2 linked regions of the Homo sapiens genome follow. The protein of the gene in region 1 purifies or fractionates together with the protein of each later gene. This does not show direct contact. Each region holds a gene or a part of one and is shown on either strand. Other genes may lie near its edges. The genes, in order: ADD3 and ASAP1.

What was found.
Region 2: the proteins of ADD3 (region 1) and ASAP1 fractionate together in Homo sapiens (co-fractionation; one large-scale study listed by BioGRID). This does not show direct contact.

What each region holds. Positions count from the first base shown.
Region 1 is NC_000010.11:110,126,211-110,130,030, reverse strand, and holds part of ADD3 (gamma-adducin), read right to left. Parts: intron 3,615-3,820; coding exon 3,528-3,614; intron 1-3,527. UniProt on the Homo sapiens protein: Membrane-cytoskeleton-associated protein that promotes the assembly of the spectrin-actin network. Plays a role in actin filament capping. Binds to calmodulin.
Region 2 is NC_000008.11:130,055,599-130,059,418, forward strand, and holds part of ASAP1 (arf-GAP with SH3 domain, ANK repeat and PH domain-containing protein 1), read right to left. Parts: intron 2,479-3,820; coding exon 2,356-2,478; intron 1-2,355. UniProt on the Homo sapiens protein: Possesses phosphatidylinositol 4,5-bisphosphate-dependent GTPase-activating protein activity for ARF1 (ADP ribosylation factor 1) and ARF5 and a lesser activity towards ARF6.

The sequences.
Region 1 (3,820 bases):
TAAAGACCACTGTAAAAAAGGCTTACAGAAATGAAACTGTACCAAAAGTAGTTCTTTAAATCTGTTACGAAAATAAGCTTGTAGCTGTTTTCTCCAGGAAAGGAAATAATGAGAATTTCAGTTGCAGTTGGCATATGGAACCCATGTATTTATTTTTCATCCCTCCCAAAACCCCACTAAAATGATAGTAAAGGAATAGAAAAAAACAAAACAAAACACCCTTAAGGACAAAAGAATGTGAGATGAAACAACAAAGGATGAGAAATGTTAACATATTTTTGGAAGCTGGAATGCAAGTGGAACAGCAGGTAGCAGAGCTGAGAAAGTTGAAGCCTCAGTCCTGAAAAAAAGGATGCAAATGAGAAGCATGCTTATTTGCCCTGAAGAGGTCTGGTAAGGCCCATAAACTAGAGGCAATAGGTACCATAGAAGGTGGTGGTAAGGAAAAGGTGAAAATAGAGGAACATGTTCAAAGTCTGAATAGGAAACAGATTCCCAGGTTCCCTTCCCTATTCCACAGAGCCAAGCATTTCCCTCTCTCTCATCTCTGCAGAAGATCAGAGGCTTGAGAAAGAAAAACTAGGCTGGGCGCGGTGGCTCACACCTGTAATCCCAGCACTTTGGAAGGCCAAGGCGAGCAGATCACCTGAGGTCCAGAGTTCGAGACTAGCCTGACCAACATGGAGAAACCCTGCCTCTACTAAAAATACAAAATTAGCCGGGCATGGTGGTGCATGCCTGTAATCCCAGCTACTCAGGAGGCTGAGGCAGGAGAATGGCTTGAACCCGGGAGGCGGAGGTTGCCGTGAGCTGAGGTCACGCCATTGCGCTCCAGCCTGGGCAACAAGAACAAAACTCCGTCTCAAAAAAAAAAAAAAAAGAAAGAAAGAAAGAAAGAAAAACTAACTAGGGGACACAAAATACAGTTGCAGGCTCCTAGAATGATGGTTGGAAACTGGCAGGAGACTGGAGTTCTTTTCCAGATAAACTAAATAGTCCCAGATAAAAGAATTACAGAGAATAATGTTTGGGGATTCCCCAGAGAAACAACCTGGTCCACATCCAATCACCCTACAGTGAAGCCCACCAATCCCCGAGCTCTGTGTATACCCAGAGCTTCTGATATGCTTTAATGTCTCATTCTTCCATATAAACAGACATACGGAACAACTCAGAATAGACAAAGACAACAAAGGCAAATGAAGAAAATTTAAAATTGATACCCTTAGAGCAATAAGAGAAAGTGTAAAGATCAGGATGTTATTAAAAAGGAACATTCAGGGAATAAGAACTCTTATTAAAAATAAAAAAGTTGGCTGGGCGTGGTGGCTCACGCCTGTAATCCCAGCACTTTGGGAGGCCAAGGCGGGCAGATCACGAGGTCAGGAGATTGAAACCATCCTGGCTAACGCGGTGAAACCCTGTCTCTACTAAAAATACAAAAAAAATTAGTCGGGCACGGTGACAGGCGCCTGTAGTCCCAGCTACTTGGGAGGCTGAGGCAGAGAATGGCGTGCACCCAGGAAGGCGGAGCTTGCAGTGAGCCAAGATCGCGCCACTGCACTCTAGCCTGGGCAACAGTGCGAGACTCCATCTCAAAAAAAATAAATAAAATAAAATAAATTAAAAAAGTTAACATCAAAATAAAAAATTAAAAGGGTTAGAAAACATTCTCCCAGAAAGTAGGATACAAAGATAAAGAGATGGCAAGTAGGAGAGAAAAGAAAAAAATCAGAGGCTCAAAGAGGCCCAACATCCAAACTAACATAATATACTGACAGAAAAAGAAATGGGAAGAAAACACTCTTGAAGAAACACTTTTAAAAAACTTCCAGAACTGAAGGATATGACTCTGGAGATTGAAAAGGGTTACTAATTACTTAGAAAAAAGACTAAAAAGAGATCAGCACACAATCATAAAATTTCAGAACAGCAGGGATGCAGAAAGGGTCTAAAAGCAAAAAAAAAAAAAAAAAAAAAATCCTAAACAAAGGTTCAGGAATTCCAATGCCTTCCTACTTCAACAATAAAATAGGGAACAGAATGATGCTTTTCTTATTTCAGGGGAAAATTATTTCTAAACTATTCTATATCCATTATATGCACATTTGAAGATAGAATAAAGGCATTTCAGACTGTTACCACCTATGTATCCTTTTCTCGGAAAGCTATTAGAGGGTGCGTTCTACAGTAAAGGAGGAAATCAAGAAAGCAGAAGACACAAGATACAGGAAACGGAATACAATATAGATCAGCAGCACAGGAATCCTCCAGATGAACCTGTGCAGCTGGCCTGAGAGCAACCAATTTAGATTTGGATCAGAATGAAGGGGGGCTGGAACAGAGAGATTACCTGTTGACTTTCACCCTGTGGAAAATAATATTAGGACAGATTTTATGTTATTCTTATTTTTTGAGACGGAGTCTCGCTCTGTCACCAGGCTGGAGTACAGTGGCATGATCTTGGCTCACTGCAACCTCTGCCTCCCGGGTTCGAGTGATTCTCCTGCCTCAGCCTCCTGAGTAGCTGGGACTACAGGTGCACGCCACCACGCACAGCTAATTTTTGTATTTTCAGTAGAGATGGGGTTTCACCATGTTGGCCAGGATGGTCTTGATCTCTTGACCTCGTGATCTGCCCGCCTCGGCCTCCCAAAGTGCTGGGATTACAGGCGTGAGCCACTGCACCCAGCCGGGACTTTATAATTCTTTTAAAAAGTTCGGGAAGAACTAAGCCAATGTACCCCAAATAATAAGCCAATGAAAAAAAGGCAAGGTGAGAGTAGGGAGGGGTGACTTATGTAAGAAAGGAAATACTACCTGGCTTAGCAGCAAACATGTAGTAATATAAATAACGAAAGCTGATCTAACAGAAAAAAACAAAAAACAAAAAACAAAAACTGTGATGTATCCTTACTGGGAGAATGGGGAGAGGGAAAAAGGGAAGCACTGTATAAACAGGCTAAATCCCCATCTTTCAAAAATATTTCATTAATTCTAAGATGAACTTTTTCCATCTCTGAAATTGGGAACAATTATAATTGGCAGTGTTTTTTCTCTTTTAGTGACATATAAAACAATGGTACTTCTTATAACGGATAACACAGATTTGATGAAAAATAGTCAAGGTCTAAAACTGATAGACCAAGAAAAAGCAGAAGATGCTCTTTAGAAACATCAAAGGAGGACGAGGAGCAGTGGTTTATACCTGTAATCCCAATACTTCAGGAGGTCAAGGCTGGAGGATCACCTGAGATCAGGTGTTCACGACTATCCTGGGCAACAGAGTGAGACCTCATCTCAACTAACTAACCAGAAACACCAAAGTAAACATTAGAAGCAATGAAAAGAACAGAAAGTTGCTGCACCTGGAAACTGGGAATTGTGGGTGACATTTTAAATCTTGTGAGTTGACTTTTTAACTTGTGCTTATATTAACCTTAGTAAAAATAAATATTCATATTTAAAAATCAATGAAATTAATGTGGTAAATAAAAAACAAAGATCATACTACTTCATAAACTTACAGAAGGTGGCTTATCCACAACAATTCCAGCAAGCAACTGAGATTGTGGTCCTGCTGTTTTCAAGTCATATCGATTTTGTTCCCGAATCTGAATTGAAAAACAATTCAATATAAAGTTCTTGAGGGCAACTATGCAGATGACCTTTGCTTTATCTTTTCATAAAAGCTTACTACTTGACATTTCCAGAGTGAGAGTCTCTTCAATTCCCACCTCCATAAAGACCTCTTTTACCATCCTAACAACTCATATTAGTCTCCTCTGCTCTTTATGGCAAGTTATTTCCTTTCGTCTTA
Region 2 (3,820 bases), on another chromosome or scaffold:
TACTGTGAAAGTTTGAGACTGATGGTGGCGAATGGCAATTTTATTGTCTGCTGCATTGGCCTGTAAGCCAGTTACCTGTAAAAATTTTCTAATTACCTCAATTAGATTAGTATTGATTGCACTAAAGAGAATCATGTAATGGGCCTTCAATAGAAAAAACAAAATCGTGCATATTGGCTTCCAATGCCAAATCGATAGAGAGGAAGGTGGTTTTAAGAGTGGAACAGAGTCAACCAGGCCTGCCCAGCTCTCCTGAAGGCTTGCCCACCCACCGCGTGTGGTCTTAGTTGGCATCATGCATGTGTGAGGTCTTTGTGAATTTCACATCACAGTTAGCATGTGTGTGTGGCACCATCTTTACATCTGGCGAGGCACGTAATGGTGGCACACACAATGTCCCCTAGGAATGATGCTAGGGACACCAATGACAGCTTCCCATTCCCCGCAGGTATCTCTGCTGTAGTCATCAGTTGCTTAGCAAAGAACATGATCACTGCTTGATTATAATAATATTAACAGATTACAAAGTGAGTTCCTCAACATCCTTGTGAGAAACGATTAATCATGTCCTATTTTTCAGAGGAAAGTGAGGCTTACAGAAGGGACATGCTTTATCCAAGGCCCATAGAGCTAGTAACTGATTCACGTGGGGGGGCTTCAGAGCCCACCTCCTCGTCATGAGATGAAGTGGACTCTCTGACAGGCTTCATGCCAGGGGCTGGCCCCACTCTGCTGACAGAGGCTGGAGGTACCCCTGGGCCTCCCCAGGCTGATCCCTTCAGTCCAGTTTCTCAACCATGGTGCTACTGGCATCCTTGCTTGTGGGGGCTCCCTGAGTACTGGAGGATGTTTAGTGGCATCCCTGGCCACTAAACTTCCATCTACTAGTTGTTGGTAGCAACCCCCTTCCTAGGTCCTGACAATCAATATTTCCAGATATTGTAAATGTCCCTGGAGGGCAAAATTGCCCCAGTTGAGTCCAAACAAAATCCCTACAGCTGTGATTAAGAATCTGAGGTCACTGTCTAGGCCTGAAGGAAGAAAAGTCAAAGGTGAATGTGTGCCCATGCCTATGTGTGTGTGCACACATGTATATACATATGTATTTCTGGGTATTCTTAGGTACTGCTGGCTCAACTGCGAGCCTCAGGTCCCTTCCTGGCAGACAGAACTGAGTCCCTCTTGGCAGGACGGGGCTCAGGCTGCCAAGGAAGGGGAATTTTCACCCTGATGTCAGGAAATGATCAACAAGGAGAGCAGAAGAGGTGGCTTATTCACTGTACCTTGGCCTGGCAGTTCCCATCGGGAGACTTACTCCCTGGCAACGTGAAAACCAATAGATGTGTGGACTGCCCTCGCAGGTCACTCACAGCCTGGGTACCTAGCAGGGCCTATGAGGATGCTGATGTCTTTCCCTCCTGATGCCTGAGCTGCAGGTTTTAATGTAAAAGGAGTTTTCATAGATATTTTCATTTAATCTTTTCCTAAAATTACGTGGAGAAGGTGTCTTGGCCTATTTGACAAAGAAAGAACTGCAGACTGGATTAAGAATTGAGTCTGAGGACTTGTCAACTGCTCAGCCTGAGCAGGAACTTGGGCATTCTGATTCCCAGCCTGGGGACAGTGTGGAATGGTGAGCAAAGCACATAGGCTCTGGGGTCAGGGCCGATCTGGAATCTTGACTTAGCCTGCTTACTGGCTGAGGGACCACAGGCAACATGCTCAACTTTCTTCCGCTTTAGTATTTATATGAAAAATCAGAAAATGCCTACAACTCACAAGGTTACATGATACCATGGGTAAAGTACATACAAATGTTAATTCTCTTGACCTGTCTTCAAAGCCCCATGGCTGTTTTTCTTTTTTTTCAGATGGAGTCTCGCTCTGTTGCCCAGGCTGGAGTGTAGTGGTGTGATCTCATCTCACTGCAACCTGTGCCTCCCGGGTTCAAGCGATTCTCCTGCCTTGGCCTCCCGAGTAGCTGGGACTACAGGTGCGTGCCACCATGCCCAGTTAATTTTTTGTATTTTTAGTAGACACGGGGTTTCACCATGCTGGCCAGGCTGGTCTCGAACTCCCGACCTCGAGATCCATCCGCCTCAGCCTCCCAAAGTGCTGGGATTACAGGCGTGAGCCACTGTGCCCGGCCAGCTCCACGGCTGTTTTTCTAGCATGTAATAGTGTGTGACATAGAAAAGACACCAAATGCAATGGCTGTTGGGTGAGTGATGCAGCTGACAGGGTCCTTGTGCTCAAGAGCCCTCTTTTACTGCACTGTCTGTAGGCTCCAATGTGGTGCCTGCCCAGGCATGCTGTATGAATGTACGGATGAAGTGGATGGATATTCGTACGTACCCACCACTCCTGGTCCTCTTCCCCTGTGACGATAATCACTTCTCCCTCGATGAATGTGAGCTCGTCATCGTTGTCTGCCTGGCAGTCATAAATGGTCTTCACTCGCCTCACTTTATTTTTCCCCTTAAAGAAAGAAACTGGGTTTTAATTGAAAGAATGGACTGAATGGAAAAAAAGAGCAGCGGTTCTTTGTAAAATGGTTGACCTTGGCCAGTAACTTAACCTCGCTGAGCCTTGATTTCCTCACCCTTGAAGGGCGGGAAGAAGAGTGTCTGTCAGGCACCCAGCATACTGTGTACTCTTAACTACAGGCCCTTCCTCTCCCCCCATCATCAGGGTGGCCCTGCATTGGTGATTGGGCATCATCAAGTTATTTTCACCAGAAAGCAAACACTATGGGTAGGGATCAAAATTGAGCTTCACCAAAAACCATCAAGCACTCTGTACGCACCCCCAACCCACATCAGCTTGCAGAATGACAGCAGAGTCTAAAAATGTTTTTAGGAAACATGATGTAAAGCAAAATCTGCAGCTTCTGCATAATGAATGTGCAGCATAAACAAATTTGTCAGTCCCCTCATGCAAAACAGCAAGTCAGTACATGCTGGTTAAACACAGCAGGATCGGCCTGGGGCTCGGAGAAGTCTATGCAGTTCCTAAAACAGTTTTAATTTTTGATTAGTTTTGATTTGAGCATTTATTTGTTGAACTTCCAGTTCTTTGCAAATAGAAAAGTGAAAATAGAGGTATCACCTTCTAAATGATGGGTTTTTGTTTTGCACCTGGCTAATTGGCAATTTTAAAAAAAGCAAGCTGTCTCTTTAAATGTTTTGGGTGGAGTGCCTCTTCCTCTCTGTCCCCTGGTTTCTCCTTTAATCACCCTGATAGTTCCAGCTGCTTTCCGAGCTCCCTTCTGGGCCGTGCGGGTGGGTTGGAGAAGCCTGGCAGAACTGTGGCAGTGACTGCGTGAGCAACTGAGAGGCCTGTAGTGTGTTAATTTATAACACAGAGATTAAATGACATAATAAAACTATATAGTGTGTAGCATGAAATGAAAATTTTGCATCAGTGGTGCTTGGGAGTCATGGGAGAGTTCCCTTTTGAATAGCAGAAGTATCCACCATCAGACACGGCAGCCTCCAACCTACAGGAAGATGGGTTTTATTTTTCTTAATTTAAGTATTGATATGACACACTTTTACTGCAACATTTAAATTTTTTTTTTTTTTGAGACGGGGTTTCACTCTGTTGCCCAGGCTAGAGTGCAGTGGCATGATTACGCTCACTGCAGCCTCGATCTCCAGGGCTCAAGCAATCTTCCCGCCTTAGCCTCCCAAGTAGCTGGGATCGCAGGCATGTACCACCATGCCCAGCTAATTAATTTTTATTTTTTATAGAGACGGTTTCTCTGTATGTTGCCCAGGCTGGTCATGAATCCTGGGCTCAAGGGAACCTCGCACTTTGG